4 linked regions of the Homo sapiens genome follow. The protein of the gene in region 3 purifies or fractionates together with the protein of the main gene of each other region. This does not show direct contact. Each region holds a gene or a part of one and is shown on either strand. Other genes may lie near its edges.

Region 1 (7,907 bases), on a different chromosome or scaffold from region 3:
CTGGCAGCGTGGGGAGAGGGACCAACCGACGCCACTTCGTGTTGGGAAGTGGGAGCGGGAGGGCCGGGCAATTCCCGACCGAACCAAACGGTGAGGCCCCGGCCCGAGAGCCACCGAGCGCGCGGGAGTGGAAGGGAGTGGGTTGGGCACCCGAGTCCCGAGAGGCGGGAGGAAAGTGGGGCTACCAGGAGATGAGGGATAACGGTAGCGAGGCAAGGGCGGCCTGCAGACTTGGCTGTTTGCGCAACCTTAGGAACCCGGGGAACTGGGGGCTGGCCGAGGCAGCCCGGGAGTGGGCAGCATGGTAGTGGAGCAATCAGGGTGCGGGGTGGGAGGGACCGTATGCTAGGCTGAGCAGAGGCGAGTGTACCCATCGTGACCGCGGTTGCGGACCTGGGTGATGCATTTGCCCTTGGGGGATAGGTGGTGCAAATTTTGAGATAAAGTGGTTATCTCGAGTATAAGACCGTTGTGCATTGTTACTGCGCACGCGACCTTGTTGCTAATAGCAATAGTGTGATAGCTTTAAACATTAGACCCTTACATGCTTTTAATGAAAAAGTGAAGGTAGTTGTCCGTTTATAGAGAGGAGCTTCATGGAGAGGTATGGCCGCCAATTCTCAAGCTCAGCGACTCCTGTAGATTTATATTTGGGGGTATTTGTGATTCAGCAAAACTACTTTTGCTTATTACGTGTGTCATTTTTTCTTTATTATTTTGTGACATGTTGGTGAATGAGAGAAGTACTATCTGAAAGTGATTTGACTAAATAGCAAGGACTGGTAAATTACCTACTAGTGCCAAGGTTGCAGTTGACATACCTCCTCCCCTCCATAATTTAAACGAGCTCAGTTGTAGCGCGGTAGTGCCCTTCAGATTTCGGTTATTCTTCAGAAGGAAGAATAGTTTGTAGCCATAATGCTTTTCCCCCTCCTGGGATAGGAATTTTCTTCCTCCATTTTCATGTTATTTCAAACTTCTCTGTTCAGTAGAGGAGCTTCAGATTAAGGGCAGGGTGACTCTTCTATAGGAGACATCCATTGCATGACACATATTACATCTTTCATCACTGAGGAAAATTTCGGTGAAAGTAGAAACATTTTCCCTTTTGGTTATGATGGGACTGGTATTTTCTCTGTTTCTGCAGTAACCTAGCACAGGGTATAGTAGAAACAATTAATTATAGTAGTGGCTTGTGGCCATATATTATAGTCTCAGGGTAGGAGGGTGGTCTCCGCCCTAGTTGAACTTCTAAGGCCAAAGAGAATTTTCACCACAAACACATTTGGCTGTGGTAATGTTAGAGGTTTTAAACAAATATGTAAAGATTATCTGATCATTAATAGAACAATTTTTAGATTTTGTGATGTTTGAATATATTTGCATTTGGAATCAAACCAGAATGCAGCATGATCCTTGTAGGCATGTGGCTATTAAAATACACTGAAGATTTTTCCAGAAACAAAATTTTTTTTTCTCAGCAATAAAAATATTCAAATTTTGGGTAAGGTAATGTTTGATTATTTGGATTTTGACCTTTGTGTTATATATTTGTACCTGTGTGTGTGTATGTATGTAACCTCACTTCTAATTTAGTGTTATTGATGGTAATATTTTTTCCTTTCTTTATCAGCTTCAAATAGGGACTGTTAATTTCAGAGCGTTTAAGGAATGGCAAAACACATTTAGTGCTGGTGTGAGTCTGTAGTGTGTTTGGTTTGCTGACTATCAGACTTATTACAGATAAGTCCACAGTTATAAGCTTTGTAGAGCTTAAGTTGCATCAGTGTTCTTTACCCTTGCTACTCAAATTGTGGTATATAGCATCACCTGGGAGTTTATTAGAAATGCATGATCTCAGGCTCAATCCAGAGCTGCTGAATCAAAATCTGCAATTTTAACAAGTTATCTAGATGAAAGGAATGTTCAATAAATCTTGAGATGCACTACTTTGGTTGGTAACAGTTGAAGAACACTGAGGTAATGCACAAACCGGTATAAAAATTTATAGCATCATTTATTTTAATCTGAGGTGATCTTATGCTGATTATCCAGTCTGATGAAACTGAGGCCCAGAAAGGTAAGTGCCTTGCATAAGGTCACACATACCTAGATTTATAACCCAGATTCCAACTCATTCCAGTGCTTTTCTTTTGCTGGTTACTGTCAGAGCTTGTTATATTAAAAACGGACTAAAATTCATGAATGACAATTAGGTGTTCATTCAATAACAAACGTCTATTGGGTACTGTACAGGCAGCCTAACAATCCTGTGTGTCCCTGCTAACTGCTCCTGTTTATCATGGTGGCTATTAACCCACCACCTTTCCTCTTTATTTTTTTTGAGGCGGGGTCTCACTGTCACCTAGGCTGGAGTGCAGTGGCGTGATCTCTGCTCACTGCATCTTCCGCCTCCCGGGTTCAAGCGGTTCTCCTGCCTCAGCCTCCAGAGTAGCTAGGATTACAGGTGCCTGCCACCAAGCCTGGCTAATTTTTGTATTTTTAGTAGACAGGGTTTCACCATTTTGGCCAGACTGGTCTTGAACTCCTGACCTCCCTGAACTCCACCCACCTTGGCCTCCCAAAGTGCTGGGATTACAGGAGTGAGCCCGGCCCCGTCTTTACTTTTTTTTTTTTTTTTTTTTTGAGATGGAGTTCTGCTCTTTTTGCCCAGGCTGGAGTGCAGTGGCGCGATCTCAATTCACTGCAACCTCCGCCTCCTGGGTTCAAGTGATTCTCCTGCCTCAGCCTCCTGAGTAGCTGGGATTACCGGCATGCACCGCCATGCCCAGCTAATTTTGTATTTTTAGTAGAGACGGGGTTTCTCCATGTTTGTCAGGCTGGTCTCGAACTCTCGACCTCAGGTGATCCCCCTGCCTCAGCCTCCCAAAGTGCTGGGATTACAGGCTTGAGCCACCACGCCCGGCCCCCTCTTTACTCTTTACTGGATAAAGTTCCCTTCTGCTTCATAGAGGAAATGAAATACATTGAGTGGGAACTTCATTGCTTTCTGTTCTGTTTCACCTGCAAACATGAAGACCTCTATCTGTCCATCTCTAATGATATTCTGAGTTTTTTCTCCTTACGGGCAATATTTCCTTCATGTGTTTGCTAGGGCCGCCACAACAAAATACCTTATATTGGGTAGCTTAAACAAGAGAATTTTTTTTCTCACAGTTCTGGAGAGTGGAAGTCTAAGATCAAGGTGCAGATAAGATTGGTTTCCTGTAAGACCTCCATCCTTGGCTTGCAGATGGCCACCTTCTTGCTGCCTTTTCTCGTGGTCATCCTGTGTGTACATGCACCTCTGCTGTATCTTTCTGTTTTCTTTTTTTTTCTTTTCTTTTTTTTTTTTTTTTTGAGACGGAGCCTCGCTCTTGTCTCCCAGGCTGGAGTGCAGTGGCCCGCTCTCAGGTCACTGCAACCTCCGCCTTCCCGGTTCAAGCGATTCTCCTGCCTCAGCCTCCTGAGTAGTTGGGATTACAGGCGCTCACCACCACGCCCGGCTAATTTTTATATTTTTAGTAGAGACGGGTTTCACCATGTTGTCCAGGCTGGTCTCAAACTCCTGACCTCAGGTGATCTGCCCGCCTCAGCCTCCCAAAGTGCTGGGATTACAGGCGTGAGCCACTGCACTGGCCTGCTGTTTCTTTTTCTTATAATGGCATCAGTTATATTGGTTTAGGGCCTTACCCTAACAACCTCATCTTATCTTAATCACCTTAAAAACTTTATCTCCAAATACTGAGGGTTCGGGGGTTAGGGCTTCAACATGAATTTTTAAGGAACACAGTTCAATCCATAACATTCAGTTACTCCTTTTTCAACTAGTACTAACTTAACAAGGATTTAAGCATACCCAAGTCTCTTATTATCTTTTTTTTTTTTTATTTTTTTTTTTTGAGACAGAGTACTCACTCTGTTTCTCAGGCTTGAGTGCAGTGGTGCTATCTTGGCTCACTGCAACTTCTGCCTCCCAGGCTCAAGCGATCCCTCCACCTCAGCCTCTCTGGTGGCTGGGACCACAGGTGAGGCGCAGGCCACCATGCTTGGCTAATTTTTGAATTTTTTTTTGTAGAGATGGGGTTTTGCCACATTGCCCAGGCTTGTCTCAAACTCCTGGGTTCAAGCGATCCACTGGCCTTGGCCTCCTGAAGTGTATTGGAATTATATGGGTGAGCCACCGTGCCTGGCCTCAAATCAAGTCTTATCTGAAATATACGCTCCTTACCTTAGATTCTTAGATTCCTCTTCAGCTTTATCTATAATTATTTTTCTTAGTTTTTTTTTTTCTCCTTTTTTTAAGAGACAAGGTCTCTTGTTACCTAGGCTGGCCTCAAACTTCAGGGCTCAAGTGATCCTGCCACTTCAATCTCATGAGTAGCTGGTACTACTTGTGTGTGCCACCATGCCCAGCTTATTTCCTTTAAGTTTCTTGAAAGAATTCTCTATATTCATTTTCTTCACCTCCTTATTGGTTAATTTTTTTTTTTTTTTTTTTTTTTTTTGGTATTTTGAAGGCTGACAGTCCATAGCAGTCACTGAATTTGATGTAGTGGTGATCACCATTGATATCTTTGTTGCTAAATCTAATGGAATCTGTTTAATCATTTGCCATTTTAACTACTTGTTCGTTCTTGAAATTTTCTTCTTATACTTCTGGGACACCATATTTTCCTTATTTCCTTCTTAGGTTTTAGCCAGTCTTTTGTTGGTTATTTTTCTCTTTTCTCTGACCACTTTAGATGTTTGACTCTGAGGCACTACCCTGCTCTCTTCTGAAAACCTTCAGATAAAAATCCAAACTACGTAGTTTAGGAAATAAGGACTTCAATGCACACTCTTCATGAATGGTCTCATTTGTGACTTCAACTATTGCCTCTATTTTGATGACTCCCAAATCTGGCTTTTTAGCACAGGTCTCTCTTCAACGCTGACATATGTAGTTGTCTTAAAATACTTGACATTCATGTCAAAAACGTTGTGTATTTCAACCTTCCTGACATTGTTTTCCTCCTATGAGCCATGCAGGCACCAATCAGTTGGAAAAGCCCAAAATCTTAATTCTTTCCCCTTATTAACTTATGTGTAACCCCTCCTCCAACTCTCCAACTATCTAATTATTTTATTTCCAACTCTCCAACTAGCCATTATTTATTTATTTATTTCTGAGACAGAATTTCACTCGTAGCCCAGGCTAAAGTGCAATGGTGCAATCTCGTCTCACCGCAACCTCTGCCTCCCAAGTTCGAGTGATTCTCCTGCTGCAGCTTTCCGAGTAGCTGGGATTACAGGCATGCACTACCATGCCCACGCCTGCCTAGTTTTTTTTTTTTTTTCTTTGAGAGAGAGTTTCACTCTTATTGACCAAGCTGGAGTGCAGTGGCACCATCTCGGCTCACTGCGACCTCCGCCTTCTGGGTTCAAGTGATTCTTCTGCCTCAGCCTCCTGAGTAGCTGGGATTACAGACGTGCGCCACCATGCCTGGCTAATTTTGTATTTTTAGTAGAGTATGTTGGTCAGGCTGATCTCAAACTCCTGACCTCAGGTGATCCACCTGCCTCGGCCTTCTAAAGTATTGGGATTACAGGCATGAGCCACTGCACCCAGCCAACACATATCATATAGTTTAAAATGTAAGTGTTTCCAGTACAGTAAGCTATTAACAGTATAGTGCTATGAACAGCATTCATATAGTTAATAGCATTATGCAGAAAAATTAAGGATATCGGGAACATAGAGATTCTTGGTTGAGGAGTGAGCCCTTTTAGATTGGCAGTTAGTGGAGACCTCTTTAAATAGAGGACAACTTGAGCAGAATGGAATGCTGTCAAAGAGCAAGACATGCTTTTATCTAGAGACCAGAGCTTTCCAGCCAGAGGGAACAAATTGTACAAGGGATAAGATACATTTTATACATATTTCACTAAAGATGTTCACGTATTGTCTCCAAGTCTCTGTTAATATAGATAACTAGGTCATGCAGACAACCTAGTCCTTTGTCTCCTTATTCTTATATGCCTGTGCAGGGGTTTCTGTGATTATAGCACCAGGTGTGAAACTGCTGGGTCATAGAAGATACAGTCACGAGTTGCTTAAGGCTGGGATACATCCTGAGAAATGGGTCGTTAGGCAATTTTGTTGTTCTATGAACATCATATGAACAAACCTAGATGGTACAGCCTATTATACACTTGGGCTATGTGGTATATAGCTTATTGTATCTAGGCTATAAGCCTGTACAGCATGTTACTGCACTGAATACTGTAAGCAGTTGTCACAAAATGGTAAGTATTTGTGTGTTTAAACATGTCTAAACTTAGAAAGGTACTGTAAAAATACAGTGTAGAAGTAAAAAATGGTACATCTGTACAGGGCACTTACCTCGAATGGAGCTTGGAGGACTGGAAATTGGTTTGGATGAATCAGTGAGTGAGTGGTGAGTGAAAGTGAAGGCCTAGGGCATTATTGTACACTTAGGCTAAAATAAATTTATTAAGAAATTTTTTTCTTCAATAATCTTAGCTTATTGTAACTTTTAGTTTATAAACTTTTTGTCTCTGTTGCAGTAACACTTAGCTTAAAACACAAATACATTGTGTAGTTCTACGTTGTTTAAAACAGACGCAAACACACACATTAACTCAGGTACACACAAGGTCAGGATCATCAATATCTCTGTCTTCCACCTCCACATCTTGTCTCACTGGAAGGTCTTCGGGGGCAATAACATTCATGGAGCTGTCATCTTCTATGATAGCAATGACTTCTTCTGAATTATCTCCTGAAGGACCTGTCTGAGGCTGTTTTACAGTTAACTTTTTTTTTTAATAGGAGTAGTACATTGTAAAATTATGATAAGAAGTATAGTAGTGGGGCTTGGTGGCTCACTTCTGTAATCCCAGGGTTTAGGGAAGCTGAGGTGGGAGGATTGCTTGAGGTCTGGGGTTTGAAATCAGCCAGGGCAACATAGCCAGACCCCATCTCTACAAAAAGTAAAAAAATTAGCATGGCATGATGGCTCATCCCTGTAGTCCCAAGTCTCAACTATTCAGGAGGCTGAGGTGGAATGACTGCTTGAGCCCAAGAGTTCAACGTTGTAGTGAATTATGATGCCGGCATTGCTCTCTACCTCAGGTGACAGAGATCGTAACTCTTAAAAAAAGTAGGCTGGGCGTGGTGGCTCACGCCTGTAATCTTAGCACTTCGGGAGGCCAAGGCGGGTGGATCACGGGGTCAGGAGATTGAGACCAGCCTGGCCAACATGGTGATACCCTGTTTCTACTAAAAAAATACAAAAATTAGCCAGGCGTGGTGGCACACACCTGTAATCCCAGCTACTTGGGAGGCTGAGGCAGGAGAATTGCTTGAACCCGGGCGATGGAGGTTTCAGTGAGCCAAGATCGTACCACTGCACTCCAGCCTGGGCAACAAGAGTGAAGCTCCGTCTCAAAAAAAAAAAAAAAAAAAGTATAATGTAGTAAATGCATAAACCAGTAACATAGTTGCTTATTATCACTTTCAAGTGTTATGTACTGTACCTAATTGTATGTGCTCTGCTTTTATACAAATGGCAGTGCAGTAGGTTAGTTTACACCAGCATCACCACTAACGTGTGAGTAATGTGATTTACTACGACTTAGGATGGCTATGATGTCACTATGTGATAGGAATTTTAAAGCTCCATTAAAATCTTACGGGATCACTGTCGTATATATGTGGTCCATATCTGACTGAAACTTTTTTTTTTTTTTTTTGAGACAGGGTCTCACTCTGTCACCCAGGCTGGAGTGCAGTGGCACGATCGTGGCTCACTGCAGCCTTGACCTCCTGGGCTCAGGTGATTCTCCCATCTCAGCCTCCTGAGTAGCTGGGACTACAGGTGTGCCCCACCATGCCCAGCTAA
Region 2 (7,907 bases), on a different chromosome or scaffold from region 3:
CTGAGTAGCTGGGCTTATAGGCGCCCACCACCATGCCCAGCTAATTTTTGTATTTTTAGTAGAGATGAGGTTTCACCATGTTGGCCAGGCTGGTCTTGAATTCCTGACCTCGTGATCCACCCACCTTGGCCTCCCAAAGTGTTGGGATTACAGTCATGAGCCACCGCACCTGGCCAGGCCTGGCATTTTTGTATTTTTAGTATATAACATAGCAAAAACCCTGTTTTGCTATGTTACCTGGGCTGGTCTCGAACTCCTGGCCTCAAGTGATCTGCCCACCCTGGCCTCCCAAAGTGCTGGGATTATAGGCTTGAGCCACCACGCCCAGCTGCTTCATTCCTTTTTATGGCTGAGTAATACTCCGTTGTATGGCTAGAGCAGTTTATATTTATCCCTTTATCCTTTAAGGACATTTGGGTCATTTATGAATGATGCTGCCATGAACTTGAGTATATAAGTATCTGAGTCCCTACTTCTGGTTCTTTTGGGTCTGTGCCTTGGTGCGGAATTGCTGGGTCACGGGGAATCTGTATTTCATTTTTTTAGGAACTGCCACGCTCTCCAATACCACTTTATTTACAAAAACAGGAGGTGGGCTGTGGTTTGCTGACCCTGGGGACATTCAGATTGTCACAAAGACCAGGATCAGTCCTGGCATTTAGTAGTCTGGAGCCTGGGGCCCTAATGCCCCAAATGCTGATGGAATCGAGTTGTACTAGCCTTGGGGGGACCTCTGGTTGGGTGTTTGGAGAGAGCTGCGTCCCTGTGGGAGCCGGCCTGGCTCTCCCGGCCTCAGCAGCTGTAGTGGTCAGCTTAGGGCCACCTTAGCCAAGCACCACAGACTACTGGCTTTAAAAACAGAAATGTATTTTCTCACGGCTCTGGAGGCTAGAAGTTTGAGATCAGGGTGTGGGCAGGGCTGGTTTCTCCTGAGCCCCCCTCTCCTTGGCTTGCAGAAGGCATTTTTTGTGTCCTCCCTCCATGTTGTCCCTCTGTGGGTGTCTGTGTCCTCATCTCTTCTTCTTATCAGGACGCCAGTCAGATTGCATTAGGGCCCACCCTAAGGACCTCATTTTACCTTAATGATCTCTTTAAAGATCCCATCTCCAAAAACAGTCACATTCCAAGGTACTGGGGGTCAGAACATCAACCCATGCATTTTGGGGGGCACGGTTCAGTCCCTAACATCTGGCCTCTCTCTGCTCCCCTCTGTGGCACAGACTTCTGCCAGCTGTCTGGCATGCACCTGCTGGTGGGCCGGTACCTGGAGGCGGGGGCTGCGGGACTGCGGTGGCGGGCGGCACAGCTCATCGGCACGTGCAGTCAGAACGTGGCAGCCATCCAGGAGCAGGTGCTGGGCCTGGGTGCCCTGCGTAAGCTGCTGCGGCTGCTGGACCGCGACGCCTGCGACACGGTGCGCGTCAAGGCCCTCTTCGCCATCTCCTGTGAGTGTCCGGGTGGGGCTGGGGACAGGGGTGCTGGCGGTGGGGGGGGGTGCCGGGTGGGCCCCCGGGATCTGCTGGGGCAGAGGGAGAGGCATCTCCTTCCCTCGTTTGTTCCCATGCTTGTTGGACCCCTGCACGGCTGAGTGCTGCGGGCAGAGTGAGTGGCGCACTCGGCCAAACCCCCTGCTAGCCAGGCAGCAGATGTGACCACTTCCCGGGGAGACCACCTGGCCCTCAGCGTGAGCGCTTTGCACACAGCAGTTTTTCAGCTGGGCACTGTTCACACTGGCGCTGGTTCACTCTCTCGGGGGCCGTCCTGTGCACTACAGGACATTGAGCAGCATCTGGTGGGTGGCCTCCAGGCCATGGAGAGACACTATCACCCCACCTGCCAGCGCACAAATGCCCCTAGATGTAGAAAGCCCCTTGGTCAGAACCCCTGCTGTACATGAATTCTTCTTCTTCTTTTTTTTTTCATTTAACCTATATAGAGACAAGACTTGCTTTGCTACCCAGGCTAGTCTTGAACTCCTAGCCTCAAGGGATCCTCCCGCCTTGGCCTCTGAAAGTGTTGAGGTTACAGGTGTGATCCACCATGTCCAGCCACAAATTCTTTTTATCCTAATGGCCTGTGAAGTAGGGACCGTTTGCATCCTCATTTGACAGGGGAAGAAACTGAGGTGTGGGCAGAGGGACACGGCCAGGTTTCTGCAGCTCCATAGGGCAGAGCTGGCCAGGACTCCCCCAAATACTGCCGCCTGGGACACAGGCACCAGGTCGGGCACAGGGACGGGACAAAAACCAACATCTGTGGGGCAGTTTCTCCATGCCAGGTGTTGACTCGCTGAATCCTTATGCACACCTGCTGAAGTTGGGCCCACTGTGTCTCCTCCACACGGGAGGGATCGGGCCAGGGGGTCTGGAGAGGACACACAGAGCCAGGATCCCAGCCTGGTGGAGCTCTTCGTATGTGCTGGATGCCTGCCTGCATGTGCTATACTAGCGCCCCAACTGGACTCTTTCCTTTTATTTTCTCTAACAGCTTTATTGAGATGTAATTCATAGGCCATACAATTCATCCTTTTAAAGTGTATAACTTAGTACTCTTGGCCAGGCGTGGTGGCTCACATCTGGAATCCTAACACTTTGGGAGGCCGAGGCGGGAGAATTGCTCGAGCCCAGGAGTTTGAGACCAGCCTGGGCAACATAGGGAAACCCCTGTCTCTACAAAAATTAAAAAATTAGCTGGACGTGGTGGTGCGTGACTGTACCTCCATCTACTCAGGAGACTGAAGTGGTGGGATTGCCTGAGCCTGGGAAGTTGAGGCTGCAGTGAGCCATGATTGCATCTCCAGCCTGCGTGACAGAGCAAGACCTGTCTGAAAACAAACACAAAAACCAGAAAAACAACGTAGTACTTCTTAGTGTATTCAGTGCTGTGCAGCCATCATCACTCTCTAATTTTAGATGTGATCAGACGCGTTCGGGGTGGTATGGCTATCGGCAGTCACTATCTAATTTTGGAACATTTTCTTCTTTTCTTTCTTTTTTTTTTTTTTGAGACAGAGTCTCGCTCTTGTCACCCAGGCTGGAGCGCAATGGCGCGATCTCGGCTCACTACAACCTCCTCCTCCCAGGTTCAAGCAGTTCTGCCTCAGCCTCTCAAGTAGCTGGGATTACAGGCGCCCGCCACCGCGCCCGGCTAATTTTTGTATTTTTAGTAGAGACGGGGTTTCACCCTGTTGGCCAGGCTGGTCTCAACCTCCTGACCTCAGGTGATCCACCCGCCTCAGCCTCCCAAAGTGTTGGGATTACAGGCGTGAGCCACTGCGCCCGGCCAAAATTTCAGAACATCTTCATCCTCTCCCCCAAGCAGAAATTCTGTACCCGTTAAGCAATCACTCGGCGTCCGTCCTCTCCCGCAGCCCCTGCAACATGAATCTACTTACTGCCTCTAAGGATTTCCCTCTCCGGGACATTTGTACAAACGGAATCCCACACCGTGAGGCCTTTTCTGCCTGGCTCCTTTCATATGCTGCAAGGTCCCCGAGTGGTGGCGGGTGGCAGTGCTGTGTTCCTTCCCGCGGCTGAATGTGTCCTGTTGCGTGGGTCCACCGTGCCCTGCCTCTTCCTCCGCCTGTCTGCTGACAGTCCCTGGTTTCCTTGTATCTCTGGGCTCTCGTGCTCCTGTGGACATAGCTGCGCAGGTGTTTTTATGGACATTTGTTTTCCGTTCTCTTGGGTGTATACCTAGCAGTGGAGTTGCTGGGTCATATCGTAACTCTACATTTAATCTGTTCGAGGTTGGCTTTTTTTTTTTTCTTTTTTTGTTTCTTGAGACGGAGTCTCGCTCTGTGGCCCAGGCTGGAGTGCAGTGGCGCAATCTCGGCTCACTGCAACCTCCACCTCCCAGGTTCAAGGGATTCCCCTGCCTCAGCCTCCCAAGTACCTGGGTTTACAGGCACATGCCACCATGCCCAGCTAATTTTTTTTGTACTTTTAGTACAGAGAGACGGGGTTTCACCCTGTTGGCCAGTCTGGTCTCAAACCCCCGACCTCAGGTGAGCACCTCAGCCTCCCTAAGTGCTGGGATTATAGGCATGAGCCACTGTGCCTGGCCTGAGGTTGGCTATTTTTTAATTCCAGCAGCCTATCTGGTCATTGAAATGGGGGCTGTGAGGGGGGTCCAACACCCTCTTTCTCTCCCTCACCCCCATGTATCCTGAGTCCTGGAATCAGTGTTGTGTTCCTGGCAGATGGTGGCCCCAGCCATGCAGAGGCTGGGAGGAGAACAGGGAGGGTTTGGGTAGGAGGAGATTCCGGAAGAAGGAAGCATTCTGATGAGGCAAGGAAAGGGGCACTTGGAAAGTCACAGCCAAAACTAGGGTGACAGGGACAGACAGACATGGGGCAGCTCGGCCACAAAGGGCAGAGAGAAGGACATGGTGTCCCGAGGGCCAGAGCAGGGTAGAGAGGGGCTGGCAGAGTTTTCTTCTAATAGCTTGCATTAAAAAAGAAGTCTTTAGGTCATCTTGGTGGTTCACACCTGGTCCCACCTACCTGGGAGGCTGAGGAGGGAGGATCATCTGAGCCTGGGAGGCAGAGGCTGCAGTCAGCTGAGATCGTGCCACTGCACTCCAGCCTGGGTGACAGAGTGAGACCCTGTCTAAAAAAAAAAAAAGTCATTACATATTTTTAAAAATCTGTGAGACAGTCACATCGTTCACCAGGTACAAAAGAGTACATAGCAAATGGTCCCTGTCCCCAAACCTGGTCCCCATTCCAGAGAAAACCACTGTTATACCTGTTTCTGCTTCCAGAGATTTTAATAAATCTGTAAGAACAAATGTGGGTGTGTGTGGTGTGTGTGTGATGTGTGTGTGTAGTGGGTGTGTGGCGCGTGTGTAGGGTGTGTATGGTGTGTATGTGGGGTGTTTGGCGTGTCGTGTGTTAGTGTAGCGTGTACATGGGTTGTGTGGTGTGTGGTATATATGTGGAGGTGTGTGTGGTGTGTGTGTTGCATGTGTATGTGTGTGGGATGTGTGTGCTGGGGGGATGTATGTATATGTGTGGGGTATGTGGGGTGCATATGAGGTGTGTATGTGTGGTGCGTATGTGTGGTGTGTGGATGTGCATGGCGTGTGTGGGATGTGTGGATGTGGTGTGTGTATACGGGGTGTGTGGTGTGTGCTTATGTGGAGTGTGTCGTGTGTGGTATGTGTGCACACAGACACACGGATTAATCTCGTTTCCTCAGATGTGCACGGCTGGCACAGGCCATCCTGACTGTGGCGCACCTTGACCTGCCTCTGTCCTTTTTTCTTAAGCAACAGTAGCTTATCTTTCCCCTTCCTGCGGGTGAGGAATGCAGCAGTGGCCCCTGCTGAGGAGGGCGGCTTCTGGCTTTGCGTCTTCATGAGGTTGCATGAGGTTGCATGAGGTTGTGGTCAGCCGTCAGCCGGGCCTCGTTCCCTGAAGGTCTCATTGCACTAAGCCCTGTGCGCTGCACCTCATTGATCCCTCACAATCCCCCTCTGAGGAAGGGGTGCTAGAGATGGGCTTCCACCATGGCTCGCCCCGGGGCTAGCAGAGTTTTGCTGGCAGTTGGCAGGAAGCTCGGGCTGCGTGAGCGGCCTCACCACGTGGTGGTCGGCTTCCCCAGCGAAAGTTGTGCACGATGCAGGGCAAGAGCTCTGGGAGCTTGGATGCCATTCTTTTTTTTGCTCGGGGGTAAAATTCACATGAAAATGTTAAAGTATACCATTCAGTGGCATCTGTCCTTTTTTTTGGTGGCTGCAGGGTATGCCATTGTGTGGCTGTCCAGTACCATTACTGGAGTTCCGTGCTGGGAGCCATTTGCAGGGTACGTCCCCTCAGCTCCTGCTGCCCGAGGCGGTGGTGCCACTGCCCTTCCCAGGACAGGAGGGGATGGACTCGCTCGCCCTCTGTGGAGCCACTCCAAAGTGGTTCCTTGTTACAGTCTACCAGAGTGGCACATTTATTACAATCGATGAACCTACATGGACACCTCATTGTCACCCAGAGTCCATAGTTGACACTGGGGCGCACTCTTGATGCTGTATGTACTATGGGTTTGGACAACTGTATCATGACATGGATCCATACTGTAGTATTCTACAGAGGAATCTCGCTGCCCTACAAATCCTCTGTGCTCCCGCTAGTCATCCCACCCCTGAGCTTTTTACTGTCTCCATAGTTTTGCCTTTTCCAGAATGTCATATGCTTGGAACCATGCAATCTGCAGCCTTTTCCGACTGGCTTCTTTGGCTTAGTAATCTGCTTTTAAGGTTCTTCCATGTCTTTTCTTGGCTTGATAGCTCATTTCTTTTTAGCGCTGAATAAGCGTAACTTTTTTAAGGGAGATGTGTGGGCTGCAGTGATGACTTTGGCTTTCTTTCCAAAAATGACGGCAGCCATACTGTGATCCCTGCCCCCAACTGCTGCACAGAGAAGAGGGTGAATGCGGCGAGGGTGGGTGGAAGGTGGGCGGTGAGCTGGGGGGTTATGGTGATAACCTAGGCAAGAGATCAAGGTTGTGGTAGGGAGCAGTGGTTCTCAAACAGGGACAATCGTGTCCTCCACAGGACATTTAGACAAATGTCTGGAGACATTTTTAGTTGTCGCAGCTGGGAGAGAGGGACTATTGGCATCTACTGGGTAGAGGCCAGGGATGCTGCTCAACATCCTGCAATGCACAGGACGGGCCTCCCAACCCAGAATGATCTGGCCCCAGATACCAACCGTGCCCAGGTGGAGAAACCCTGGCGTAAAGGGGACAGGTCTCTCCTGGGTACATTTTGAAGGTAGAGCTGACAGGCCTTGCTTACAGATTGAATGAGAGGAGTCTTTGTGTTTTCCAGTCCATGCATGCCTGTTCTTTTTTCTTTCTTTAATTAAATAACATCTGGCTGGGCGTGGTGACTCATGCCTATAATCTCAACATTTTGGGAGGCCGAGACAGGTGGATCACTTGAAGCCAGGAGCTCAAGACCAGCCTGGCCAACATGGTGACACCCTGTCTCTACTAAAAATACCAAAAAATTAGCCAGGCATGGTGGGGCATGCCTGTAATCTCGGCTACTCGGTAGGTTGAGGCATAAAAATTGCTTGAACCCGAGAGACGTATGTCGCAGTGAGCCAACTGCCACTGCACTCCAGCCTGGGCGACAGAGCGAGACTCTGTCTCAAAAATGAAATAAAATAAACTAAAATAAATAAATATGTAACCCAATATGTCCAAACTATTATAATTTCAATGTGTAATTAATATGGACTATTAATGAGACACTGTATTTTTTGTCATGCTAAGTCTTCAAAACCTAGTGTGTGCATTTTACAAATGAAGCACATCGCAACATGCTGAGTTTTCAGGGGTAGTGTGGAGTGCGCCAGAGCAACAACGTTGTGTGTGTTTTTCTTTTTTTGGTTTTCTTTTTGTGTGTGTGTGAGATGGAGTTTCGCTCTTTTTGCTCAGGCTGGAGTGTAATGGCGCAATCTCGGCTCACTGCAACCTCCACCTCCCGGGTTCAAATGATTCTCCTGCCTCAGCCTCCCTAGTAGCTGGGATTACAGACGCACGCCACCACGCCCAGCTAATTTTGTATTTTTAGTAGAGACGGGGTTTCACCATGTTGGTCAGGCTGGTCTCGAACTCCTGACCTCAAGTGATCTGCCCACCTCGGCCTCCCAAAGTGCTGGGATTACAGGCATGAGCCACCGCGCCCAGCCAACGTTGTGTTTAATGGAAAATATTTTACACTGCTTCAGTTTTTCACCTTAAGTTTAAATGAATGGAACTTAAATGAAATGAACAACTCTTTTCCTTAGTTGCACTGGCCACATATCAGGTGTTTAGTGGCCACAAGCTACTAGCAGCTTCTGTCCTTCTTGGCCAGCACAGGCCTAGAGCCTACCCAGGAGGGGGCACCTTACTGGAGGTGC
Region 3 (7,415 bases):
CCCTGAGGAATCTCCACACTGACTTCCACAATGGTTGAACTAGTTCACAGTCCCACCAACAGTGTAAAAGTGTTCTTATTTCTCCACATCCTCTCCAGCACCTGTTGTTTCCTGACTTTTTAATGATTGCCATTCTAACTGGTGTGAGATGGTATCTCATAGTGGTTTTGATTTGCATTTCTCTGATGGCCAGTGATGGTGAGCATTTTTTCATGTGTTTCTTGGCTGCATAAATGTCTTCTTTTGAGAAGTGTCTGTTCAATACTATGCAGCCATAAAAAATGATGAGTTCATGTCCTTTGTAGGGACATGGATGAAATTGGAAATCATCATTCTCAGTAAACTATCTCAAGGACAAAAAACCAAACACCACATGTTCTCACTCACAGGTGGGAATTGAACAATGAGAACACATGGACACAGGAAGGGGAACATCACACTCTGGGGACTGTTGTGGGGTGGAGGGAGGAGGGAGGGATAGCATTAGGAGATATACCTAATGCTAAATGACGAGTTAATGGGTGCAGCACACCAGCATGGCACATGTATACATATGTAACTAACCTGCACATTGTGCACATGTACCCTAAAACTTAAAGTATAATAATAATGAAATAAAATTAAAAAAAAAAAAGAAAAGTGCCTCACCTCCCTGTGAGGCTTGATGAATATTGTGGCCAGTGAGTGGAAAATGATTCTTGTCGAATAGACAGAGTATTCCCACCCCAGGAATGGATTAATAGAAGACACAATTTGAGCACTTCTCAGAATTATCTAGTATGCCTGAGTAGAGACTCACATGGGTGGAATCTGTGTTGTCTCATCAGAGGGAATAAAAAGACAATGAGGTGGTAAATGTGAAAAAAGCAGCCTTTTAGAAAAACATTATTTTCAAATACCTTTATAAATCATCTAATTTATCTTCACATAATATAAAGAAAAAACTAATAAAAATTTTCGTATTTCACTTTACATAATATGTTCTCCCATATTTAGGGATCATACAATTGTATTGTCTTCAAAACACACACACACACACATACACACACACACACACACACACACACACCCCTTCCAAGAAAGCTGATCCTTCAGAAAATAAATCTTATTTTTAAGCACTTGGGTTTTCAGGCCAGAAAATTAATAAATCCTAAACCTGACCCATTTTTGTAACAGCTAAAAAGGAGAAGAAAAAGCTAGTTAAATTTTGTGTGGATCCATTTATCTCTTAAAATATGCCAAAGCAATTTGAGGTGGGGGTGGAAACAGGTATTTATCTCTCATGCGTGATTCTCTCTTTATATTTCTATCTGTTGGGAAAAGGGTAAAGAACTATTCTTGGTCATTATTGATGTATTGTGTTGCCACTTTGTATGGTGCCTGCTGTGCTTTATCCCGAGGCATAGCAGTAATCGTTACTATCTTGACTCTTTCCTTCATCACAAGAGAGTAAATATGAAGTCTGAATGTCGTTCCTCACCCCCAAATTGTTTAACTCTGCTTCCAAACTAGTTTAAGAAATGCAAAATGGGAAGAGCTAGCTTTTCTTAGATACATTTCTTCCTTTTTTATTCTTTCTTGGGAGACGTTAAGTATAAAAGGGAAAAAGTCAGTTCCTTCTTCTCTCTCTTTCTCTTTGGGTGACAGCAATGCTCACTTAGTAATTATAAACTGGAAATAGGAGAGTAGCTTGAGCAGGTTATGATATATCTGCCCAATGTGTTTCATTCCTTCAAACATAAACTTTGAGAGTAAAAGAGATTTTTATAATTTAAATGCCAACGACAGGAATGGCCTCATGTTTTAACTTTCAAATAATAAATGGGGAGTTGGTATTTGGGCAGAGTTTGCATTTTACTAATCCTATATACTTTGAGCTTAGTTTTTAGAATTGTGTCAAATACATCAACATATCAGGATTATAGTGCCAAAAATAGTTAAAGTGCCTTGGTCCTCCCTCTGTAGGCAGCAAATTGAAACTAACATGGGACCATGCCATCCTTCTAGCATAATGGAGAAGTCTGAACTGAGGAGTATCTTTGATGAAAGACATTTAGGACCCTAGAAACTAAATCTTGTCACCAAGACTTTATAGTAAAGTAGTAGCAAAATTATTTTTAAAAGACTTTCTTCCTTTTACTACCCATTTCCTCTCTTGGGAAAGCTGATGAGCAAATTATCCAAGACTCATTTCTTTATTAGGCAAAGTCAGAATATTTCCCCTCTGAAAATCTGAATTATGCCCTCATTCTTTTTCAAGAAATATCTCAAAGAGCAAATAGAATTAAACATGACACTTGATTGTCTGATTATTTGGCATGTATAAAATTATCATGTGGCTTAATGTGCCTTAAGTGAAAATTTAAACTTAGACCTGAAACCTTTACAGTTGGATGTAGCGTTGAGCTTTTGCATGTTTTCTGTATAATAAACCACTTTTGTTTTGTTTGTTTTGTCTTTTAACCTACACCTTTATCATTACTCTAACAGATTTAGGGCTTCTCTTTCTCTACAGCTAAGTAAGGGAATATGTGCAATTATGAGACATACAAAAAAGGAAAGGGAAAGGACTTTCTAAGTAGCAAATCTGTGCCATGAAGTAGATGTGGCGTGAAGATACAGAGCCTGAGGATAGTAATTTTCCCTGAGCCACGCACACAGGCTTTTATTTCATGCCTTTTCTCTTTCTGTGCCGTCACCTTTGAGAAAAACGATTGCACCTTCTCCAAGTCTGCCTTTTTAACAGCTACAGTTAAGTTGGCAAGACTTCCCCAGCTCTGAATATAGCCATTTGCCGACTCCGGCCTCTTTGCGAGACTGACTCAAATCTGTGATCTTCTGTTCAGCATACACATCAGCAAAGTGAGAAGATGAGCACTAAATATAGGCTCTATTAACTTTACTTTTAGATTTACTGCCTTCAAAAAGTGCCTATTCTGAGCAACATAAACGTTATTCCTTACATATGTATGTACACACGGTACCCAGAGTCGTACTGTGCAGCCTTCAAAAACATACCATCAGAAAGAGTAGGTGCTGAGATAAGGAAACTTTGCCAAATGAAAGAAAGTCACTCACTTCCAATATCCCCTCTCAAGCGGCTACCGTGAAACGGGCTGCAAACACATTCCCTGAGCATCCCTTGCTGATACAGCTTCTTTATATTTATATCCTACTGGATGGTAGCATATTGCTAAGGTTTCCTGTACTCTGCTTCAAGGGAATGTAAGCTTTATGGCATTGAAACATTTAGGGAAAAAAAAGATGTTTAAGAGAATTAATAGAGCCGTAGTCTGTATTAGGATGTGTGTCATATGTGTGTTCTATAAACTAAGCATCGGTGGGTTTAGAGTGTTAAAGTGTCAGCACATTCCTTCTCCTTTTGTCTCTCAGGCTAACATGAGAGAAAATAGAAAAGTCTTGGCTGTGGGGATTGGAAGCTCAGGGGGCCAAATGTCCTTGCCAGATCCTTAGAGCATTACTTTGACTCCTAAAAATAGTAGTGTATGTTATTTGATGGCTTTTGTTTCCATAGTTCCATCACTGACAAAACTGTCAATACTGTTGATGGAGCAGCAGCATAGCCTAGAGTGATGCATTCTTACCCAGAGGTGGCAATAGGAGAGGGTCCATGTAAATAGGACGAGGTAGACAGTGCATGATTGTAGGAGAAGGGTTGAAGGGAGGACATGATTCCAAAAAAGATCGTTCTCAATGTGTCGTCTGACTCAACCAGCTGGCAGATTACACTTGCCAAGTCGTTCCCTTTCCTTCTAAGTCAGTTGGCTCCATATTCACTTGAATATGCCTCTGTTTGGGCAAAGCAAGATACCTCCACTTAACCTTTATCCAAGGAAGCTCTTGGTGTCCTCTTGGTCATAAAGTTGTCTCCTACCTAACCCAGTTTTACCAAATGGAAGTAAAAGGGGACAAACTATGGAAGATGGACTCCATGCCATTGCAGTCAGCCACCATTCTCTTTTCCATATAAGGAGCCCCATTACATAAGCTACGGGTGAGGTTGGAACAGCTATGTTTCATAATTTCAAGAGTGTGACCACCCTGCTCTAGTCATCATCATTGGATGAATCCAGTTGACTCTTTGGCAAAAGGGTGATACTTTTCACTAAAAATGCCTACTCTTCCTGTTGATGTTCCTTTTCTGTTTTTACCTTGTCCAATTTCCACACTAGTCATTTTTTTTATTTTTTAGAGGATCAGATTTTAGCGCTGGAAAATGAGTTCAAAAATTTCAGTGTAATGTCATAAGGATGTTGGGATACAGAGATTTTTTTTTTCCTTGGAAACAAATGGACTGGGAAGAAACACAGCATGGCTTTGCTCTGAGTTTCAATCTGATGATTATGACCATGGAAGATAGTCTTATGTAAAGGTTAAATGGTGTTTACAAGTGGATAGATAAGGCGGAGATGGTGAGAAGCCGGGTTTTCTCTATGCTAAATGTGTCTACTAAGAGCAGCACTTCCTACTAGCTAAGCACAATCATAGCCCCACCGTGATGAGCTGCTAGTCTGAATAACATTCCCTGACTTAGGGAAAGGCACACAAAAACATATAAAGAATATGTCTATTTTCATATGTGTGATACTGACAGAGCCATGGTATTCCTAAAATATAGGTTTCTCTTTTTTCTTGTATTCTTAGCAAATTGCATTTATTCACTACATTACAAACCATCACTGATGTATCCAAAATAGCACACATAGTTCAGTATGAAAATAAGAGAATAAAATCTGTTATAAGCAAGTGATTTAGGTATTTTCTTTTGTGTTTATGCATTATCTGACTATATTAAAACCTGTTTTTCTATTTACCTTCTATCAGTTTTCTCTACCAATTATGTTTTTTCAATGCTCTATAAGAATGAATATGGAAATTATATTTCTTTTTTCTGTAAAAGAGTTGCAACTACTTTATTATATTTAGAAATCCAATAAACTTCTTATTACATTTACTTGCCTATGTGTGGAATTCTTTTTGAGTTGGATAATCTCTGTTTCCTTTTCTTCTAACCCCCTTTACTGTGTGACTCATTTTTTACATCATTTGCTTTCCATATGGTCTTCTGAGAAACGGAATATCTCTCATAGCAAATATGGTGCCACAAGAGTATGAAAGCACCCACTCTCTTCCACTGTTAGCACAGAAGAACTTAAGGTCAGAGGTGTTCTAAAATTATTTGACCACTCTGTGTCTTGACCTTGCAAAGACATTTTCATTTTTAAAGCTGGATCCAAGTAAATGGGTCCCTTAGGGTGGGGTTGGGGTTCTCCATTTTCATCACAAACAAGTGGCTGACTTGTTCATACTTTTATTCCATCTGTATTACGCATGCTTTTCAAACATTGAGAATTTCCTCTGTACTAGGCATCTTGAGCAATACAGCTATCAATGACATATAGTTCCTTTCAATGAGTTTATAGTCTAGTTAAGCTGATAGATATGGATACAAATACCTATGGGGAAAGGAAAGGAATAACCACAAACAGGAAAAAGTAACTTAGCATGTTCCAGACTTTTCACTGTCACTCCATTTTCAATATCCTTGTGATTATCTTACCCTCATTTTATAGATGAAAATTCCAAGAGTGAGGAAAAAAGTTAATAACCCAAGATCAGCATTCATTTGCTGAGCCTTTTTTTTTTTCATTTTTTAAAGTAGCAGTTCTACAGAAGAACCAAGACTCCTGATACCCAGTCTATTGATGCTTAATAAGAGTGATTAGCACTACAGCATACGTGAAACTCACCCCACGAAAGTCAGAAAAGATTATCTGTTCTCTTTTCTACTTATCTCTCCAACATCACATTTCTGCCTACTAGTGCTGGGACATCTGAGAACTACAGGTGGGAAGACTCTGTACTAAAGACCACTATTTTAAACTGCCATACACAAGATCAATCTTTGAACAAACAAAGGGTAGGTATATCAATGGGACTTGTGGTACTTGTAATTTCTTACCAGAAAGTTGTAAACAAAAGAATACATGAGATGTAACCTTGTCTTCTCTTTATTCTTCTACAAAGAAGCTGTAAGAGGTAATCTTATCTTCCTTCTCCCTGTATTTCTCAAATTACTCTGTTTTTTCACCTACCCTTCTGCTCTGTTTTCTAATAGTATACATTCATTTGTTCTATTCAGAGTGTAAGAGCTAGAAGGGCCTTTAGAGATTATTTTACTCTGACTTTGTGAAGAAATACTAAGTCTCAGAGATATGAAAAGACTTATCCAAAGTCATAAAATATTTTAATGACAGGGCTGGATCTTGAGTCCTGGCCTCCTGACTCTCTGTCCATTGCTGTATACAAATGATTTGAATAATGCAGAAGAGAGTGGAAGACGCATTCTATTTATAATTTACATTTCAAGGAAAAAGAAATTTCAAATGAAAAAAAAACTGAGTGTTTAATGTCCAGATACCCTAATTAATAGAAATTCTAAAAATCATGTTGCAGGAAGAGAGAAAGCTGAGAAGGAATGAATATCAACAAGGCAACAGGAAGGCTGAGCAAAGAAGGTAGGCAACCATATAGTCAATTCTAAACAGACTGGAATAGCAAACAATTATTTTCTAAGTTGAGGGACTTAAAAAAGTTGAGCTAAAATACTGGACGATAGTGGAATGTAGGCCCAATGACTAGAGTTAAATCTTTGTAAGATTTTTGTTGATTTTGGAGAAGACTGGTGCTGTTGATTATCTTTACATTTTTAAGTTATGTATATATGTAAATATTTCAATGGCTGCCATCTAAAGAAAACAAATATATAACTGCAAAATCAGTAGAAAGGAGAAATTGAATTGGGGAAAAGCAGAAATGAAACAATTTTTTTTTTTTTGAGTTGGAGTGTGCCCTTGTCGCCCAGGCTGGAATGCAATGGTACCATCCCAGCTCACTGCAACTTCCGCCTCCTGGGTTCAAGCGATTCTTCTGCCTCAGCCTCCCAAGTAGCTGGGCTTACAGGCACCCGCCACTACCCCCGGCTGATTTTTATATTTTTAGTAGAGACGGGGTTTCGCCATGTTGGCCAGGCTAGTCTCGAACTCCTGACCACAGGTGATCCGCCCACCTCGGCCTCCCAAAGTGCTGGGATTACAGGCGTGAGCCATCACACCCAACCCATAAAAATTCAAAGATCCACCCTCAGAGAAGGATATTTTAATAACACCTTCTTCAGTAACTATTCAAGTAATGAGTTAAAAACAAAAAATCACTAAAGATATAGAAGATTTTAACATTATTAAAAGGCTTGATTTTAATGGATATATAAGAATCTCCATACTTATTGGATAAAAAATAAGCTTTTAAAATATATACATTATATATATATATACATTATATATATATACATTATATATATATATATACATCATATATATATATATAAAGTGCAT
Region 4 (7,907 bases), on a different chromosome or scaffold from region 3:
TTGGATAAATGTCTTCATCATCCTATCTTCCTTCCTATTCTTCTAACTCCATCTCCAGTCTCTTCTTCAGAACATTTTCTCTTAAGTTCTCCAAACCACCCAGATGACGCTTTCAGCAAAATTACAAGAGACCTTTAAGTCTCTATTATATTGCACTGTATACCCTTAAGTTTTCCAATACTCCCTTGAGGGATATGGCTCATATTGTTAATTTTCATTAATGTCTGTCTTAATGCCCTTCCTGCATCATAAGGGAAGAAGCTATTCTGTATTTCTTTTCTACTTTCATATAGCATATGGCATACTGCCCTAGCAGGCAGAATATATCTGTTAACTGAATCAGATATCAAGTGGAAATTTAGGACTTGGTAAATATATCCTAGGCGTTTTCCTAGGACAAATGGTCTTATGCAAGAATATGGCTTGTCAGAATGATGTTTGTGTTGGTGAAGTTTCTACCACTTCCTGTTCACTACTGTGATGCAGGATTCCTGTTCTCACAGAAATATCAAAGATCTATCTTGGGCAGATAGCATCAAGAATGTAGCTGCTGCCAGCTTGGCTTGTATCTCAGGTGCCCTGCCTGCTTCCGCAGTAACAACAAGTGAGAAAGTTATTCTAGACTTGGCTCAGTTGTCTAAAGCCCATCCAACTTTTATCCAAACTTTTTTTTTTTTTTTTTTTGAGACAGGGTGTCACTCTGTTGCCCAGGCTGTGGAGTCCAGTGGCATGATTACAGCTCTCACCGCAGCCTTGACCTTCTGGGCTCAAGCGATCCTCCTGCCTCAGCCACCCAAGTAGCTGGGACTACAGCTGTGCACCACGATGCCCAGCTAATTTTTGTTATTTGATTTTTTTTTTTTTTTTTTTTTTGTAGAGACAGGGTTTTATCATGTTGGCTCGACTGGTCTTGAACTCCTGAGCTCAAGCAGTCTGCCTGCCCGCCTCGGCCTCTCAGAGTCATGGGATAAATGGGTATGAGCCACTACGCCTGGCCCTTTTTCCGAACTCTAAAAATTTATTCAGTAAATTTTTTTTTCTAGTGCCTAAGATGTGTCAGTACCTGATCTAAGAACTGGGGGATGAATCAGGCTCAGTTCCTATCATCAAAAAACTGGGGATGCAAACAAGGAAACACATAAACATAACACAATGAAGGAAGCCAGGGGATATACCTAATGCAGCCTGGGTATCATGGTAGGCCTTCTCTTAAAGTAGTCTTGTTTCTTTTGCCAGATACAGGATAGAATAAGGGTTCTGTTTGTTAAATGTTAAGATGTTCTGGGTTTCATGAGAGTCATTGATCTTTCTGAACCTGAAAATTATTATACTATGAGGTATTTGGTAATTTTGTTTTTTATTCTGCTGGATATCTGAATCAAGTTTATGACTGATGGCCATTTTGGCTATTCTAGATTTTTTTTTATGTTGAAATATAAGGCCAATGATTTACTGCTTTTGCTCTCATAGGTTTCCTAATGAGAGGCAGCAGGGGTATAGTCATTAAGAACCTGGGCTTTAGGCCAGGTGTGGTGGTTCACACCTGTAATCCCAGTGCTTTGGGAGGCTGAGATAGGAATATTACTTGAGGCCAGGAGTTTGAGACCAGCCTGGGCAACATAGCGAGACCCTGTCTCTACAAAAAATATATATATTTTTTTAATTAGCTGGGTGTGGTAGCATGTGCCTATAGTCCCAGCTACTCAGGAGGCTGAGGTGGGAGGATCATTTGAGCCCAGAAGTTCAAGGTTATAGTGAGCTATGATCATGCCACTGCACTTCAGCCTGAACAACAGAGTGAGACCTTGTCTCGAAACAAAACAAAAAAGTTAGGGGAAACCTGGGCTTTGAGGTCAGACAGATACAAATTTGCATCTTGGTTACACCACTCTGGCTGTTCTGAGGAAAATCAAATAGAAGAAGTGGGGAATGAGGTGTGAAGTTGGTTAGGAGACTGTTATAGTAAAGGAGAGTAATAATGGTAAACATAGACGAGGATGGCAACAGAGGAAGAGAGTCATTTTTTAATGTATTTTCGAGGTAGAACTGACAGGACTGGTTTATGGATTGGATGTTGGGAGAGAGACGGGGAAGGGCAGGAAGGGACTTAAGGATGACTTCTAGGTTTTTAGCCCAAGCAATTGGGTGAATGGTAGAAACAGAAAGAGGTAGATATGGGAGCAAATAAGGGGCAGAGAATCAGTTTTGTTTGGATAAACTCAAATGCTTATTACATATGTAAGTAGAAATGTTAAGTAGGCAGTTGTATATACTAGTTAGAAGAGGCTGAACTAGAGATAAATTGGAGAATCGTCATCACATAGTTAATATTTAAAAGTGAAAGATTGAATGTAAAGACCTAGGAACTTGATATTGATAGGAAAAAGATCCAAGACTGAGTCTTGGGATATTCCACAATATTTAGAGCTTGGGAAGAAGAGGAAGATCCAACAAAGAAACTGAAAAGGCACAGTTGATGAGATAAAAGGAAAACCAGGTGAGTATATTAAGTGTTTGTAGAAGGAGGGAGAGAATAACTGTGTCGGATGCTGCAGAGAGATCAAGTAAGATGAGGACCAAGAAATGACCATTGGAATTGGCATGATAGAGGTGACCTTGACAAAATAAATATCTGAAAATAAATGGGATATAAAAATCATATATAAGTTGGGGAAAGGATGAGAGGTGACAAAGTAGAGAAAGCAAGATAACTCTTTTGAGGAGCTTTGCTGTATAGGAGAGCAGAGAAATGGAGTAATAGGTAGTAGTGAATGTGGCATTGGGAATGTTTTTAAAGGCTGGATAATGGAGTATGCTTGTGACATCCACGAGAGAAAAAAAGTGACACAGAAGAGAGACAGGATAACTGAAAGAAAGAGTATCTTTTCAGAAGCAAGAGGGGATGGGAACTAGTGCCCAAGGTTGGCCTTGATAGGAATAGATATTTCATGTATTAAACAGGCATCAAGGCAGAGTATATTATTACAAGTATTGGTGAATTTGTGGATTCATTTGGTAGTTAAAAGATGAGGTAATAGTTCTGATTGCCTCGGTTTACCATTAAAGTAAGAAATCATGTCATTATCTGAGGAGAGGGGCTTTAAAATTTTGAATGATTTTTTAAACTAAGAAATGAGATTTAAAGAAGTGCTTTCTCCTAGTGGCTTGCTTCAGGCAGTGTTTCCAGTTCACCCTGGGAATGCAGTCATTTTGCTCTGCCTTAGTTGTACTTAGGTGGACAAATGTGAGAAGACTAATTTATTCAGATAGCCTAAGCCCTGTAGCACGGCACACAAGGCCCTGGAGAAGCTGGCGCCTGCCTTCCAATCCTATTCTGTCACGCTCCCCTTTTATCTCCTCCCTGCTTCTCCTTGCACCCAGTTCTCTAAAATCATTATCCTGCCGACTTTCACATCACAGCACCTTTGTACATAATGTGCCCTCTGCCTAGAATGCTCTAACCAACCTCTTTTATTTTCTGGTTAAACTTGTTATCTATACTCCTCAGTTTAGCTGTGACCTCTGGGGAGCTTTCTCTGACCTCCTCATTCATGTTCAAGTGCTTTCTTTGAACCTTGCCTCATTATATTAACATTATATGTGTCTTTTTCTCCCTACCGAATTATGTGCTTTTTGAATACAGGCCTGGCACCTAGTATCCTCTTGATAAATATCTGCAGAACTGAAATGGCTATGATGTTTTTACTTAATTTTTACTTATAAAACCATGTAGCCAGGTGAGTAATAGTGGCAATCTCTATAGTAAGAAACACTGGTGATCACTACTTTTTATTAGGTCTCACATAATCTGTAGAATTATTTATTTGATTCCAATGATGTGATACAATAGATACTGAATAACCTTCTCTCTTCCTTTCTTTTCTTTCCCAGTGTGAAGAGTGGCCAGATTCGAAATCTGGAGTCTGCCCGTGTCTCAATGGTTGGCCAAGTCAAACAGTAGGTCTTACTCTTCCCCCTTGGTCTGGTTAGAGGCGGAAACATGGTGAGGGAATTACAGATTGCTTCTTTTGTCTTACACCAATTCTACCATTCCGGTAAATGCCTTTATTATTTTAAATAATTTTAAAGGTGAGTTCAGTTGGGACAGACATAGATTTTCTTTCGCCTGCCTTCCTTTCTCTCCTTCCTTTCCTTCCCTTTCTTTTTTTTCCTCCTCATTTAATACTGGATTACCTTAGCAAAACTCTGCGTGTTAAAAAGCAAATCCCAGAGCATAGACATTACAAATTATGTTAACCTTAGTGATAGCAGCTGAGTTTCATTCTAGTAACAGTCTCCTTCTAAGCCAAACCTGGCTGTGAGGGAATTATAATAAAAAAGCTCTGGCATAGCCTGAGTGAAAGCCAGATTCTAAGAGTGAGCTAAGATTATTTAGCCCAATTGATCTTTCCTGATAGAATTACATGGCATTCTGGGTATTGCTGTATAGTCACAAAATAAACTTTAGATGAATTGAGAAAATGTTGCCCAACAGAACAGACAGAAGTTAGATGAAAATGATAATGGCTTTGAGTGCTTACTATTTGCCAGGCACTGTGCAAGGTATTTTATATGCACTGTCTCATTTTTAAAACCTTATATTATGGAAAAATTTTGCACATATAAAAGAAGAGTGATACAGTGGATGGACCCCAGTGTTCCCATTGTCCATTTTCAATGGTTATTAACCCATAACCATGTCTCATTTGTTTCATCTGTGCCCCTATGTATTTCCCCTAGTCACAAAATATTTTGAAGCAAATTCCAAACAAATATAATTTCCTCTGCAAGATTTTCATATGATCTAAAAATAAGGGCTCTTTAAACATCATCACGATGACATTATTACACGTAAAAAAATTGGCAATTCTTTAATATCATCAAATATCTAATCAATATTTACATTTCTGATTGTCTCATAAATAATTTTTTACAATTAAAGTCAAAATCAAAATAAGTAGATAGCAATTGGTTGATCCACCTCTCATGCATCTTTTAATCTAAGGTTCCACTTCTGTCTCCCTCTTTTTTTTGATTCCTTGCAATTTATTTCTTGAGGAAACCTTGTTTGCCCCATAGAATTTCCCATGATCTGGATTTGCTGATTGAATTCTCAGGCCATAATTTAACATATTCCTTTGTTCCTTATATTCTGTGTAAATAGTTAAATCTAGAAGCTTCATCGGGTTCAGGTGTTTTGTTTGCAAGAATACTTGATAGGTGATGTTGCGTACTGCCATCAGGAAGTACATAATGTCTGGTTGTCTTTTTTTTTTTTTTTTTTGAGACAGAGTCTCACTCTGTCGCCCAGGCTGGAGTGCAGTGGCGCGATCTCAGCTCACTGCAACCTCTGCCTCCCAGGTTCAAGCAATTCTCCTGCCTCAGCCTCCTGAGTAGCTGGGACTACAGGCATGTGCCACCATGCCCGGCTAATTTTTTATATTTTTAGTAGAGGTGGGGTTTCACTGTGTTAGCCAGGATGGTCTCTATCTCCTGACCTCATGATCCGCCCACCTCGGCCTCTCAAAGTGCTGGGATTACAGACGTGAGCCACCATGCCCAGCCAATTGTCTCTTTTTTTTTAATGTCAGGAGCCGTTGATGTTTATTACCTAGATTCATTAATTCATTTGCACTATCTCATTTAATCCCTACAATACCTCTTTAAGATAAGTATTGCTTTATAGATGAGGAAATAGAAGTTCAGAGAGGTAGTTTCCCAAGATCACATAGCTAGTGGATGACATAGCTGAGATTCAAACTCCTGTGTATTTGACTTCAAGGCCTATCTTATGGTTTTATGCCTAAAAGGGCAATTTCAGTAGAAATATCAGGCAGTCAAAATGCAAGACTTTGAATAACCTGTGAGACTGCCCACTTTTCAATTCCTAAATATTTTGAGACCTCAAATTTGTCTAATCAGTAGTAAAGCATTTTACATGGCATATATGCAGATAGTTGAGTGATTTTAAAATTTTATTTCCAGTGATGTTTTCTCTTAATAAGTAAACCTATGTGTAGGAGAGTGTGTATGTGCATGTGTATTAACTGTCACATAGATAGCTGGAACTTTCCTGCCCCTTATAATCCAGGTGAAATTGCCTTGAACCTCCTAATCCACAGGCTATAGAAATTCAAAGCATATGTTTCTTTGTTACACTGTTTTTTTTTTTTTTATCACATCTATACTGTATACTACATGTGAAACTTGGCACAAGTTTCATATAAAACACCTACTTAACAAAACATTTGTGAACTTACACTTCACTGAAGGTTTGGCAGAGAAGACAGAAAGGGAGAAGTTATCATTCTTAAAAATCTACCGCTGACTTTTGAATTTATCCCAGTCTCTTTTTATCTTGCTTGTTCTCTCTCCTTTTCCTTCTCTGTCTTTGTCAAGGGCAAAATAACAGATTGTTCTCTATCATACAGAGCAAACCTTGGCACTAGCTGTTGCCCAGGCCCTTGGGATTTTTTTACCTTCAGAGCTTGTCAATGTGTTTTTTCCATCAAGTTCTCTCTAAAGGAAGTATGGTACCAGCTGTTGATATAATAATAATTTTTCTACCAAAGAATATAATAAAAAGAGATGCAATTTTTAAGAGAAAAACAACAATGATAATTGGTTGGTTCAGATGGTTTCTGTCAGCTAATTAAAAAGTGAGGCCTTTTATCATTCTGTTTGAGCCTTGTTCTACTATAAGCAGGGTTCAGCAGAAAAGCACCATGTTTTGGAGTTAGTTGAGCCTGGATTTGCATCCCAGCCTTAACCACTTATGAGTTAGGTGATGCTGGACAATTTTCTTAACTCTTCAGGGCTACTTCATAGGATTGTTATGAAGATTATATAAGATTATGCCAATAAAACTCATGCCTGAGGAAGTGGTTGCTCCCTTTCTATGGGTCAGTATTGGTGCAAGAACTGGAAACCAGCCCTTGGAGAATAGTTATACATTGGCCATGATTTTCCACAGCCCTGGAAATGCACAATTCTATCCTCCTACCAGGATGATTGTTAAGTTTTAGCTAACATTTGATTATAAAAGGCCGTAAGTATGAGTATCTCTGAGATAATTTGTGTATTGGAAAGAGGTGTGTAATAGCACTTTTTTAAAAAAACCTAGGTGTGAAGGAATTACAAGTCCAGAAGGCTCAAAATCTATAGTGGAAGGAATCATAGAGGAAGAAGAAGAAGATGAGGAAGGAAGTGAGTCTATAAGCAAGAGGAAAAAGGAAGATGACATGGAGGTGGGTAAAAACATTCATTCTTGAAAAGATGCGGTATGGAATGGTTCAAACTGTGTGTGGGTGGGAAGGGGTGATAACATTGTTCTTTTTGTTTGCCATTAGGTATTTTAGGGAGCCAAGACACTATCATAAGAGATACTTAGCTTAACTATAAGATGTAAAGCACTGTTGATAGCTCTGACCAATTGGAACATAAAACTTACGCTATATACCCTCCCCTAAAACAGACTGCTTTCTCACCTGTTCTTCTGTTCCTGTGTTTCCTCCCATGAGAAAAATTCCATTTCCTACCAGTCTACTCTAAGCTCATCCAGATCTTTTTTTTTTTTTTTTTTTTTGAGACAGAGTCTTGCTCAGTCACCCAGGCTGGAGTACAATGGCGCGATCTCGGCTCACTGCAAGCTCCGCCTCCCGGGTTCACGCCATTCTCCTGCCTCAGCCTCCCATGTAGCTGGGACTACAGGCGCCCGCCACCACACCCAGCTAATTTTTTTTTGTTATTTTTAGTAGAGACGGGGTTTCACCGGGTTAGCCAGGATGGTCTCAATCTCCTGACCTCGTGATCCACCCGCCTTGGCCTCCCAAAGTGCTGGGATTACAGGCGTGAGCCACCATGCCCGGCCTAAGCTCATGCAGATTTTACCCTGTCCATCTGTCTTT

Evidence for each region.
Region 1: the proteins of LPP (region 3) and IPO11 fractionate together in Homo sapiens (co-fractionation; one large-scale study listed by BioGRID). This does not show direct contact.
Region 2: the proteins of LPP (region 3) and HSPBP1 fractionate together in Homo sapiens (co-fractionation; one large-scale study listed by BioGRID). This does not show direct contact.
Region 4: the proteins of LPP (region 3) and PPME1 fractionate together in Homo sapiens (co-fractionation; one large-scale study listed by BioGRID). This does not show direct contact.

The regions. Positions count from the first base shown.
Region 1 is NC_000005.10:62,412,840-62,420,746, forward strand, and holds part of IPO11 (importin-11), read left to right. Parts: 5' UTR 1-90; intron 91-6,044; exon of another isoform or gene 6,045-6,174; coding exon of another isoform or gene 6,175-6,288; intron 6,289-7,907. UniProt on the Homo sapiens protein: Functions in nuclear protein import as nuclear transport receptor. Serves as receptor for nuclear localization signals (NLS) in cargo substrates.
Region 2 is NC_000019.10:55,267,936-55,275,842, reverse strand, and holds part of HSPBP1 (hsp70-binding protein 1), read left to right. Parts: intron 1-1,220; coding exon 1,221-1,445; intron 1,446-7,907. UniProt on the Homo sapiens protein: Inhibits HSPA1A chaperone activity by changing the conformation of the ATP-binding domain of HSPA1A and interfering with ATP binding. Interferes with ubiquitination mediated by STUB1 and inhibits chaperone-assisted degradation of immature CFTR.
Region 3 is NC_000003.12:188,885,697-188,893,111, forward strand, and holds the end of LPP (lipoma-preferred partner), read left to right. Parts: 3' UTR 1-4,975; downstream 4,976-7,415. UniProt on the Homo sapiens protein: May play a structural role at sites of cell adhesion in maintaining cell shape and motility. In addition to these structural functions, it may also be implicated in signaling events and activation of gene transcription.
Region 4 is NC_000011.10:74,232,010-74,239,916, forward strand, and holds part of PPME1 (protein phosphatase methylesterase 1), read left to right. Parts: intron 1-3,891; coding exon 3,892-3,957; intron 3,958-7,123; coding exon 7,124-7,247; intron 7,248-7,907. UniProt on the Homo sapiens protein: Demethylates proteins that have been reversibly carboxymethylated. Demethylates PPP2CB (in vitro) and PPP2CA. Binding to PPP2CA displaces the manganese ion and inactivates the enzyme.